3 separate regions of the Homo sapiens genome follow, and all the other regions are reported to be linked to region 1. Evidence: microRNA targets listed by miRTarBase, many of them from high-throughput screens and not tested one by one. Region 1 holds a microRNA gene; each other region holds the end of a gene's coding sequence.

Region 1 (4,681 bases):
ATTCACAAACCAAGCAAAGCCAAGTACCCGACTAACATAGAGTGCTACATATGGAGAGCATATTTGTCTTGTTTAGTGAAAGAATAGCAACAAGAGGTATAAAATATTGTAAAAACACACCCTGGATTATTTCACTATTATTATTGGATCAACTTAATTTTACATTTGGATTGGAATGGTTATTCAAAGAGCCACTTAAGATCTCTTTAAGTTGAGATGATTGTTTTTTGTTTCTTTGTTTTGTTTTGTTTTTTGAGACAGAGCCTCTCCCTGTCACCCAGGCTGGAGCGCAGTGGCACGATCTTGGCTCACTGCAACCTCTGCCTCCCGGGTTAAAGACATTCTCCTGTCTCATCCTCCCGAGTAGCTGGGACTACAGGCGCAAGCCACTATGCCCGGCCAATTTCTTGTATTTTTCTAGTAGAGACGGTGTTTCTCCATGTTAGCCAGGATGGTCTCGATCTCCTGACCTCATGATCCTCCCGCCTCGGCCTCTCAAAGTGCTGGGATTACAGACGTGAACCACCACACCCGGCCAGGGTGATTTGTTTTTAAACCCATGTCAAACTCTAAATGTATTCCACCCAACTAGTATGCCTGAATTTCACTGGGGAAACTGGCCTGATTCTTCAAGAGGTTTTGCCTGGGCCAGTTTGGGATTGAGTGTGACACTTGATGAAGAGCTGGAGGACCTTTGTATAACTGCTCCTTTACTCTGCCCATATTTCAGACAGGTTGCCTCATTATTCTGGAGTTCTCTTACTTCAAATTTTTCTGTCCCTGCTGCCTCTGATCTGGTGATGCTCACTTGTGTTCACCTACTCTAACTGTAGCAGCAGTTTTCCTTTTCAGCTATAGTATACCAAAAAATAAAATAAAAATCACGTTATTTCTTTGGATAGGCCGTGGTATATGTGTTCTCTTCTGCTTAGAACACTTACCCCACCCTTCTCATTGCTAATTCCTGCTACTCTTTCAGTTCTCTTATATATGGTATTCCCTTAGAGAAGACATCTGTAATCAACGCTCTTAGCACTGAATTAAGTGGCCTCTCCATGTCTCCATTAGCCCTATATGGAAACTTTTCATAACACCTATTACTGCTTTTTTCAAATTCTTGTTTTCTCCTTTGTATTTCTTGAAACCTGGAGTTTTTATATCCCCAGCATCTAACCAAGACTATGCCTGGCACATGATAAGCGCAAAACAAATATTTTTTTTTCATACATACATATTTTCTACAAATTTTTTATTTAAATATTTTTAATTATTCAGATACTTAGCAAGTTTGGCTTGGTTGTTATATGTGTGGTTGGTGGAGGTGAGTAGGGTATTCCTGAGCAGTGACCTACACTGACAGTGGTGAACTGCCTAGGACTCTTATGTTCATGAGCTTCTATAAAGCAAACTTTTAATTAATGTTGACATTTGATGGTTACTTTGAAAAATGTTGAAATTTTCAAAAGCATGAATTACTTGATTGATATTATGCTTACTAGGCTGGGAAGATTTATAGATTCTTTTCATTAATTATAAATGAAACCTTTCTTTTTGCTCTTTAGATAAAAGTTAAAAGGTGGGATTCTGGTTATTTTGCAAAGGAGAGTAACTTTATTGTTTGTTTTTCATTTTTTATTGGTGTGGTTTTCTTTCAGAGTTGAACCTAATATGTATAATATAGAATTTAGTTTTATAAACATTCTTGGACTTCAGCAGTCATATGAAAAAATACTTACTTGGACAAATATCAGAGGAAAAAACACTCAGGTTAAACTCATTTAATGATTGCCTTTGAACTTTTATTTTAAGTTCAGGGGTACAAGGGCAGATTTGTAACATTGGTAAGCTTGTGTCATAGGATATGAGATTATATGAGTATAAAGTGGGAAGCTAAGTAACTGAGGATATCTTTAGAACAAATTATCCCAGCAACACTTATATACTGTGATATGGATGTGAGAATTACATATAGTTTTATTATTTATTCTACTCCCTACTCCTGACATCTATATTAATAACCATGCCCTTTTATTTTGATGAGCAGAACCCTGTTTTTTCATCCTGCATAATGTCATGCTAGTTATTGTATTAGGAATTCTTTTAAATGAAATTTACTGGTATATAATATAGAAAGCATGCATTTATTTTTAAGTTTTATTTACTTAAAATAAATGTTCAGTGTTTCTTGTGTGTTTCAGCTAAAAGAGGGTGGTGCAAAACTGAGCATATTCTTCAATTGATTGTGAACTAGATGGAAATACTTCCTCAACTTTTGGTGGCCAAAGGGTACTGTTTTTGTTGGTTCATAGGTACCAGGCTTTACACAAACTGTGAAGTGCTGTGGATTTCTTTGTGAATCACCATATCTAAGCTAATGTGGTGGTGGTTTACAAAGTAATTCATAGTGCTTCACAGGTGCTTCTGCAGTTGATCTACACCATGAAGCCTAAGATTCCTTTACTGAGCCATTGAGAACAAGCCACTTTGTATTACAAGACACACAAAGTCAAGAGATCCCTGGTAAATATACTCTAGAATCCTTCTATTTGGTGCTTAGTGTTAACAGTGATCAAACCTGTGTCAAACACACCAGAAATTATGGTTACTTTACCTAAATATACATGTTTTACATAGTTGCTGTCTCTGTCTCTACTGTTCTTTTTTTGAAAAGTAATTTGTAATATTTCTTGGTTAAAAAAACATGATACATCAGAAACATTAATTGAATCAGCCCCTTAAATCCTAAGCATACCATTTTGAAGTTTAAATATCATATTTTATTTGGATTATTATGCCCAATTAATATATTAATTAAATAGTTTGGTAAATGATCAGGGGCTTGAAGACATCATTGTTATGCAGTACTTTTGTAAAAAGCAACATTTTATTTTAACAAGAAAAACATTGGTGTGGGCAAAAAAAATCACCTTAACATACCAAATTGTACATTTTGATGGCATATATTAAAATTAGGTATTCACTGGGCATTCATTTTCATTTACTCTTCTGGAAACAGTATCTATAGTCCTATTCTATGACAGAAAAGATTGTGTAACCTTTACAAGGTCACAAAAGCCTAATTGTTGACTAGTAATTGCTTATTAAAATAAATGGAACTTTGTGGTCATTTCTGTCATCAGGATTACCAAGAATGGATTATCCCTGACCATAAATCAAACAATTGATGATTAACTATTTTAATAACTGATTAAGCTTTCAAATAGTCATTTTGGTTTTACCGTTTTTTATTTATTTCCAAGGCTAGAGCGTAGGTCTTATTTAAGTTCAATGGTATGACTATAAGACTGTCAGAACTATGAAAACTTCTGACCTTTAATTTCTTAAGTGACACATCTGGACACCTAAGTGACAGTGGTACAGGCTTCTGAAATTACTTTTGCATCATCATTGAATATATCTATTGTATTCATTATGACTTTATTTTGTCCTGTTATGTTTCATTCCTTAGAAGTGGATTATGCATATGCTCTATAAGGTTGGGTGACTTTAAATAAATTAGCATACTAATTTTTAAGCCCTTCTGTTAGATAAAAGAAAATCAGTATATTATTTTTCAACATATAAATGACCAAAAGAATGAATCAATATGTATACTTTTAACCTTAAAATATATGTGTATAAATATGATTGGAAATGCTTTACCTAAGAAATATCTTGCTACTCTAATTTAATTTGAACTATGATACAAACATGTTATTCTTATTTCCTAGCCTTTAATTCTTCAGTATTTATTATTACCATTCCTTGTCTGATACATATGTAACCTTATTTTTCATAGGACTGTATGTTCATAAGCAAAATCCACAGAGCTCTGGGATTTCCTGTGCTTTTGTTGGGTGCTACTTTGCTGATGTGTGAGGACAGGTGGGAAAAGAGTCTGAGAAGACAGGTTTCTGAAATTAATTTGTCCTAGAGCTCTTTGATTTTTCTGTTTTATGAAAGGGGGCACCTGTAAAATTTCCTTTGAGCCGAAGCTTATGTTTTTAATGATAATATGTAGAACTGCTGATATATGAATTTAGAAGGAAGTCACAATATTTTTTCTTAAGATAATTTTTAGTTTACGGGAGATATAATGGGATGTGCTAATGGACTAATAAGCATATCTCATAATCATGTACCTATATCCTTGTATCCTAATTTTAATCCCAACTTCTTTATATTTATTTCACTACCGCTTTTTTTATTTTTAAGATAAATACAGGTTTACAAACAATGAATTAATTTTTAGTGTAGGTTTTGTGTTTTTTGGTAAGAGACAAAAAACATATGTTGCCCTGGCTGGGGTGCAGTGGTGCAATCATAGCTCACTTCAGCCTTGATTTCCTGGGTTCAAGCAATCATCCCACTTCAGTCTCCTGAGGAGCTGGGACTACAGTGCCTGCCACCATGCCCAGCTAATTTATTTTATTTTGTTTTATTTTATTTTATTTTATTTTTGTAGCAACACAATCTCACTAGATACTCATGCTTGAGTGCAGTTATGAGTAGAACATGTGTTCAAAGTGAACCTGAGGTCTCCTGTTATGGACAAGGTAATATCAAGCTTCCCTAATTTCTGTGAGAACTATATGAGAATAGATATGTTTAAATGAATGTTATCTGTGAGAATTTTCTAGAGAACAGAACCAACAAGATTTTTGTGTGTATATATATATTA
Region 2 (4,000 bases), not on the chromosome of region 1:
GGAATCTAAGTGAAACTGTGTGTCTTAGAGTTCTCCAAAAAAGCCGAATTAATAAGGCTGAGAAGTCTCATAATCTGCTGTGCAAGTTGGAGACTGGGTGGTTAACGGTGTAATCCAATCTGAGACTGAAAGCCTGAGGAACAGGGAAGCCAATGCTGTAAATCACAGTCTGAAGGCAGAAGATGAGATGAGATGTCCCAGCTCAATCAGTGAGCTGTGTGTGTGGGAGGCAAGCCTGTGGGGTATTCAGCTGGTGCCCCGAGATAGGGTGGGTTGCAACATGTGAAAAGCTGATGTCTAGAAAAGAAAGGGATTGGAAGAGAGAAAAGAAAATGTGTGGAGAATGAAGATAAATGGCTAAATTTAAACTCCCCGAATCCCCCCTCCCTCCTTTTTTTGCAGAGATTGTTTTGCCAGATTTTTAGAAAAGAGAGATGAACACCTTTTAAACTCTGAGGAAAGAAATGGGCTCATTGGTATGGAGCAGAACAGAATACTAGGGGTAAGAAATGCTATAATCATTCCTGTTCTGAAGTCCATTTAGTAACAGCTGTGTGATTCTCTTATTCTCTTATTCTAGGGTCCCATAAATGACCTAGAAACTGCATTATATTTATTAGAACTAAAAAAAAATTCACTACAAGTAACATATAAATTTAGGAGGAGAAGGATCTGTGAAAGGTTTTATAAATATAGGATAGATATATATCCTACTTGAAAATTTTCTATCTCTTCATTTTGAATTATGTTAGTAGTATCTATGTTCCGTAACCACCTCCCACTCACTCCCAGGCCAAAACAATAAAATACCTACTGTTACCTAAAATCACCAGGTCCAAACTCTTCATTTTCCTATCAGTTTATTGTTGTACATATGAGGTACCATGCTACTATCAGAATTATATCTAGGTTTTTTATTTTAAAAAACTCAGAGAAAAAAATGTTTCCAGTAATTTTCATTCAATGTGAATGACAAGAATATTACAGCTATAAACATTGAAATAACCATTTCATTTCTTCCTGAGGAAGTTTCATATTTTAAACAATGAAAAAGGGAATTCTATACAAAGCTAGTTTTAAATCAGATTATCTCTCATTATTCTCTCATATGTATTTATGTTACTTTCAGATTAGCATATTAACCAGTTGGAGTATATAATGTGGAAAGTATGCATGTCCTCTAGAATTTGATGCTGTCTTCAAGACACATTGAGTGGTCAAAAATCCTTTCACAGGTTTGCTGCTCTAGCTAGCGTAATACATGTACTTGTGAATGAATAAATTTTGGTAAGATCTCTTCCTTTTTCTCCTGTCTTTATACAAACACGGAGTATGTTTTTGACATCTATTTAAAAGGATGAAGTGTTCAGTCAACTCGATTTACCTAAACAAAATAGGCCATTAGCAGCTTTGCTTAGCAGTTCAAATGTACATCTTACCATTAAAGCATAAATGTATCAGTTTTTCTTTTCTTTTTTTATTAGAATAAATGTTGTTGCCAAATGAAAACATGACACTGTATATAACTGCTGAGGCCTATTCTCATGTTTAACCTTCCTAAGCCAGTTTTCTTAAGTTGGTGGAGATGGAAGACTATAGTAATTTTCCTAGCATGTCTGGCATCTGCTGCTATAAAAGAGACAGCAGTAAGCATGAAGACTGTGTTTCCCATATTTGTCCAAATCACTTTGATTTTGCTTTTAGAGTCAAGAGTCTTAAAAATTGGTGATTTTTCCAATTTTTTCTGCTAATAGTATATTTAAAAATTAGCATATGCTTTAGGTACATGAAACTTTAAAAAAGTAATTATAATGTACAGTTAAAAATTTATAGTAAGTGGATCTCACAATTCATTTTCTAATTAGTAATTGATAGTTTTACCCATTAAAATGACAATGAAAATATTTTTACTATGGGTTTTCCTCCCATTTGTTTCTAATCATACCTTTGATAATATTTTATAAAGGCTTATAATCATAGCAGGGAATTAATTTACTACTTAAATTTTATGTATATGTACAGTACATTTAAAAATTAAGTAGTCAGGGCATGGTGGCTCACGCTTGTAATCTCAGCACTTTGAGAGGCCAAGGTGGGTGGATCATGAGGTCAGGAGTTCAAGATCAGCCTAGTCAACATGGTGAAACCCTGTCACTACTAAAAATACAAAAATTACCCGGGCGTGGTGGTGCATGGCTGTAATCCCAGCTCCTCAGGAGGCTGAGGCAGGAGAATCACTTGAACCCAGGAGGCGGAGGTTGCAGTGAGCTGAGATCACACCATTGCACTCCAGCCTGGGTGACATAGTGAGACTCTGTCCCCCTCTCAAAAAAAAAAATTAAGTAAATATTAACAGGAAAATAAGTATGATGTATTCTTTTCTTTTTTGGAAACTTTATTAACCATATATATTATTTACAATTGAAATGTAAATATATTTCAAGAGCATGACTTGCTCATCTTTGTACTTCCTGCATTTAATTTAGTAGCTAATCCTTAATTGTACCTATGATCTGTTACTTCCACCAGAGTGATGGGTGAAATATTTTCAAAAATGGGCCTCTGCTCTGCTTATGTTTCTTTGCCTTATATCAAAAGTATCATTGCAAACATTAGATTACAAATAATATATTAATTTGTTTTTTGTTATAAATCTCTACTACATTACATAATTTTATTTTGAACTATCTGGGAAAATGCAATTTTTTAATAACCTAAATGTAAATAGCCTAACCACATCATCTAGGGAAACTGTTTTTAGTTTTAGTTTAATAGGTTTTGTTTTGGGGAGCATTAAAAATAGCTATTCACATTTAAAAGTCAACCTGTTTCTGGAGATGACACATACCTCAGACTCTAGGCATGCATTTCTGTAGAACTAGTGAGGACTACTGGGATAGATTCACAGCTTACAGCAAGTGGACATAGAATTCTCGATGATATGTTTTTAGACCCCTACAATTTCTCCCTTTTAGAGGATTCAGTCAGTACACTTTACATTGTTATTTACTGTTTTGGTGTACTTGATGTGTTTCTATTTACCATCCAACAGCTTTACAGTATATATTTCAGTATAACAATTACGTTGTGATGGAAGAGTTAGTAATTTTTACATATATTCACTAGACTATGTATATGAAAAAATCACTTTTGCTATAGCACTTATTTTTTTTTGGTGCAGATAACACTCATATATAACTTTTCCACTCTGATCTAGCACAAATTATAATTTACAATTATTTCTAAATACTTAAGTGGATTTAAATTTTGGCAAGCATTTTTCATGGGTGTTATGCTTTTGACATTTTATGCTACATTGTGATGTTTATTTTGCTTCTTGTTTCATAGGACACTTTATAGAATAAAATAATAAGAAAACATCGTACAGGCAAACAGTGGTCTAAAAACCTACAGAGACACAATCTTAGTTGATATATAAAAGTGTAAATATTACTATGAAATGGAACAGTTCTGCATTTGTGTTTGATATTTATGTTGGTTGCAATTGACTTCCACATGAGTGCACAGTAGTCTACAATAATCCCACAGGCTCAGATATGGGTTAAGAGAAAGGCCACAGGCCTCAAGGCTTGTAACACATACTTTTTCTTTTTTTCTAATCATCCACGTGCCAGCACATGGAAGAAACTGTTCTTTTTTCTCATTTGAAGAGGTATATTTTTCAACTGCCTTTTGGTAGCTTCTGGAAGCTTTGGAAAAGGTGTGTTCTACATGGACGATGAAGTCTCAAGTTTTCTCTCAGTGCTATCTTACTTTCTGCAGCTCCTGTCTCAGCCAGGATGGCAGAGGCTGACCCAGTTTGTGCAGCAGCTTTGAGAGTTCCACGTTGTGATCTCGATAGTAGCTTGACAGAAATGTCCTGCTCTAAGTGGAGAGGAGGAGAGAAAAGTACATTTTATTTTGTTTATTACATTTCATACACTTTGACTACGTTGAAATAAGTACCAAGTATACCAGATCTGGATTAAAATTTGTATTA
Region 3 (4,000 bases), not on the chromosome of region 1:
GCCTTTTCACGTTGATAACTCTGCTTCTGGGAAGAGAGTGAACAGTAATGAACCATCTTCATTATGGTCTTCACACCTAAGAACTGTTGGGTTAAAGCCAGAAACTGCTCCTCTCATCCAGCAACAAAATATCATGGATCAATGTTACTTTGAGAACTCTCTATCCACAGAATGTATAATTCGGTCAGCCAGCAGATCTGATGGGTGTCAGATGCCAAAACTTTTTTGCCAGAATCTACCACCCCCTTTGCCACCAAAGAAATATGCTATAACCAGTGTGCCACAGTCAGAGAAAAGCGAATCTACACCTGATGTCAAACTTACAGAGGTGTTTAAAGCTACCTCTCATCTTCCGAAGCACAGTTTAAGTACAGCTTCAGAACCAAGTTTAGAAGTGAGTACACATATGAATGATGAAAGACATAAAGAAACATTTCAAGTGAGAGAATGTTTTGGCAACACACCAAACTGTCCATCCAGCTCCTCAACTAACGATTTTCAGGCAAACTCAGGTGCCATTGATGCATTTTGCCAACCAGAACTAGACTCTATTTCTACCTGTCCAAATGAGACAGTTTCATTAACTACCTATTTTTCAGTTGATAGCTGCATGACGGATACATATAGATTGAAATACCATCAGAGGCCCAAGCTCTCTTTTCCAGAGAGCAGTGGCTTTTGTAATAATTCACTATCTTAGAGTGAAAAAGGACTAGACCTGTGTTACATAATAATCTTGGTTCAAGCTGCCCTTCTGAACAAAGATATAAACCTAGCATACATTGTAATAGATAACTGGTAAAACTGACCAACTTTTACTTCTCAGAGGCCATTTAAATATAATAGGAACCTACTGACCAAACCTAGTGATACATAAAATTAAAGCCTGTGGCATTTTTAAAGTTGTTAATCACTATACATATGTATGTGTATATGTGTATACACATATATAATTTTATGATCAATATCTTAGATATTTTAGAAATTCCCTTTGAATAGTCTTGGCGTGCCGTGAAAAATAGAAAATCAGGGAGATATAATAATTCATTTGTCATATGCTACAGTTGAATAAAAATTAAATTTGTCCCCCTATTTTGTGGCCAGTAGACTGGGAAGTATTAAACTAACCAGTACTCATGTATGGAGATTATAAACTATGCTAATTGAAAAGTACCAGGTGATACATAGCCTGGTACTTTTTTGTCAAAGAATTGCTTTATGAAGAAGCACTTTCTAATGGGTAACCAGAAAAGGGCTTCACCCATTTGTTTTTGACTTCTATGATAGTCACTGCATATGATCCCTTTAAGTGTCTTTAAAAAAAATGACTTATGAATTTGATAGCATTTGGGGAAAAAAAGCCTTATATGATTAACAATTTGTAAGTTTTCAAGATCGGATGGAATTTAATTTTGCTCCTAGAATTTTTGTCTTCAGAATATCTAGTTAAGATAAATTAGGCCTTTGACTATTATAGGTATTCATAAATGCTACTTTAGCCATGTAAGTTAAAAAGTTAAAATACTTAAACTTTAGTGTATTTATTTATCTCGTTACTTTTTTTCTAATTTTATATGAAATGTGAAAGGTCTTTATTTTGGTTTGGTTTACTTTGGGCTGCTAACCACCAGTGTTAGGAATTAATGTAGGGCACCCTCTTATTGGGAATGTCACTGTAATTGCCTACATTTTCTTTGCTGTAATATTACCTGCTTATAGGTTGTCAACCCATTTTATCTGAATTTGAAAATCTATCTAGGTTTCCAGATTAAATTTCTACCTTTCATATAGAGAGTTTAATTTTAATAAAATGTTTAATTAGAGCATCCTTCCCTTTTATTCTACTTTGAACAAATAGTAATTTTACCCCAACTACTTTTCATGAAGAGTGCTTTGAAAATTAAAGGAATTTTTATTATTATGGTAACCTTATGAGTAAAAATAAGTTACTTTAATTGCTTTATTTCGTTAGTTGTCATTTTATTTTGTACTATGCTGGTAAACTAATTGTGGTTTAGAATAGTTTTATGTTCACTCCTGATAACTGAGAAACAGAACTAAAGTTTTCCTTACATTGCTAAATGGATAAACCTCATATTCAATAAACTAGTAAATGTAGCCACTTGACTGATTGCGTAAATCGTGTTAAAACATTCTAAAATGTTGTAACTAATTTAATGTGAATACTGTTAAACAGAAAATAATTGCTTATAAAAGTCTAACTTCACCCAGTTACCAAGTCTTGGCCAAATTTTATCTTCTGCCTATAGTTTTTACTAGCCTTTTTAAACTATAATAGTGAGTGATCATTACTTTATATTCTCGTAAGTTAGAAATACTTGAATGCCAAATTAATTTTGTTTTAAGAAAGCTTATTTTTAACATAATTTTTTAGTGTGGAGGGTTTGTAAATAATGTAAAGTTTGTAAACCTGTATTTAAAATACCAAAGTTTTTCTTCTTTTATAACATTGTAAGATACTAGAAAAATGGGCTTCAAGTTTTTTAATAGCTTTCACAGTTTGTGTAGTTTTTTTTTTCTATTTGGTTAAGATGTGAGTTGGAAATGTATTATTTGAAACATTTAAACTAATTTTTGTATTTAACAGCAGTCTCAGACATTTGTCTTTTCAACTCAGTTGAGTTGTAGATATCAAATAGAAATGTCCAGTTTTGCCTCTTTTAAGTACTGTCCAGTTGAAACCTCCTGACTCATGTACTACTACACAAACTAGAAAATGCCCATTTATTTTTGTTGATTCAACACTCCAGATACAGATTGATACATATATACTAATCATTTTATTTCATGTAAAAGTTTTACATCTAGGGTGCCTATTTATTTTTATAGATGCTTTCATCCAGTTATAAGCTTATTATAACTTTGTAAATATTTCAGCCAACAGTTGTAATGTTTAAAATACTTACCTTCAGAATGTTATATTTTCATGTGAAATCAATTTCTTCTAATTCAAAAAAATTTTAAGATAAACTGATTTTTAAGTTTATATGATTGGACTTCTCTTTGCATTCATGAACTGTGTGTCACCCTCCCACCAACGTGGATTATTTTGGGACATGTTAAGTCGCGGGTACTTGGAATTTCACTGATCATAAACGGTTATCACAGGAGATCCTAGGAGTTAAACTCCAGCAAGGTCTAAAGCACAGCTCCTTAGAAAAGGAGTTGGCAAACTTTCTATAAAGATAGAAAATAATTTAGGCTTTGTGGACCATAATATTTCTGTAATAACTACTCAACTCTGCCTTTGTAATGTGAAAGCAGCCATAAACAATATGTAAATGAATGAGCATGGCTGTTTTCCAGTAAAACTTTGTCAACATAGAAATCCAGATTGCATATAACTTTCATGTCATGAAAGTTTTTTTTTTCTCCATTTTAAAATGTAAAAAATATTCTTAGCTCACAGGCTGAAGTCTCCAAATGTACTCCCATGCCACTTACGGACTGAGTATTTGCAGCTCTTTACATCCTAAAACGTTCAGGTTAAGCTCCCTAAAAACTATCCCTTGCAACTGCTAACAAGCCAGTTCATTTCAAAAGGAACTACTAAAACAATCATTTCACTTTATATAAAATGGTGTGAAATTTACAAAAGAATTTATCAGAGTAAAGTCACATTTTCTTTTGATGTCTTTTTTGTTTTGTTATCTTAGCAAGTTTGCAACTTTTCTTGGCGTTCCATTTATCCACTTCTTAAAAGCCTTCAAACTGAGGGCAATGTAAGCAGTCACTATACTTGCTATGGCACAGTTTAATGGTAGGTACAATTTCTTACCTATAGGAAAGATTCAGCCTTCATACTGCCACCATTTTGAAAATGCCAATTACAGTCATGTCATATTACTAAGTCAGGGTTTGCCATAGAAAGAGAATCAACAGGATATATATAGAAATAAATTTATTATGAGGGATTGGCTCTTGTGATTATGGAGGCTGAGAAGTCCCACAATCTGCTTTCCGCAGACAGTAAGCCCAG

Evidence for each region. The annotated mature microRNA hsa-miR-876-3p reads UGGUGGUUUACAAAGUAAUUCA and lies in region 1 at 2,381-2,402, shown strand. An mRNA with a match to its seed (bases 2 to 7 or 8) in the 3' UTR can be bound and repressed. Matches are read on the target gene's strand: a 7mer-m8 pairs with bases 2 to 8, a 7mer-A1 pairs with bases 2 to 7 and ends in A, and an 8mer does both.
Region 2: the mRNA of NDST3 is a reported target of hsa-miR-876-3p. Seed matches in the 3' UTR shown: 7mer-A1 at 2,184-2,190.
Region 3: miRTarBase lists USP53 as a target of hsa-miR-876-3p. Seed matches in the 3' UTR shown: 8mer at 1,623-1,630.

Annotation. Positions count from the first base shown.
Region 1 is chr9:28,861,357-28,866,037 of GRCh38, reverse strand. It overlaps MIR876 (microRNA 876), which reads left to right and starts at 2,332; the gene lies at 2,332-2,412. The region is part of intron 2 of LINGO2 (leucine rich repeat and Ig domain containing 2); the gene reads left to right.
Region 2 is chr4:118,255,478-118,259,477 of GRCh38, reverse strand. NDST3 (N-deacetylase and N-sulfotransferase 3) reads right to left here. Exons shown (of 14, transcript NM_004784.3): 14 at 844-3,885. The coding sequence ends at 3,766. It overlaps LOC105377392 (a long non-coding RNA gene), which reads left to right. Exons shown (of 3, transcript XR_939113.3): 2 at 403-502. Among named protein-coding and RNA genes, the nearest start is that of SNHG8, 21 kb to the left of the region's middle.
Region 3 is chr4:119,292,512-119,296,511 of GRCh38, forward strand. It overlaps USP53 (ubiquitin specific peptidase 53), which reads left to right. Exons shown (of 19, transcript NM_001371395.1): 19 at 1-3,007. The coding sequence ends at 700. ARLN (allregulin) reads right to left here. Exons shown (of 2, transcript NM_001001701.4): 2 at 3,908-4,000. Among named protein-coding and RNA genes, the nearest start is that of ARLN, 6.1 kb to the right of the region's middle.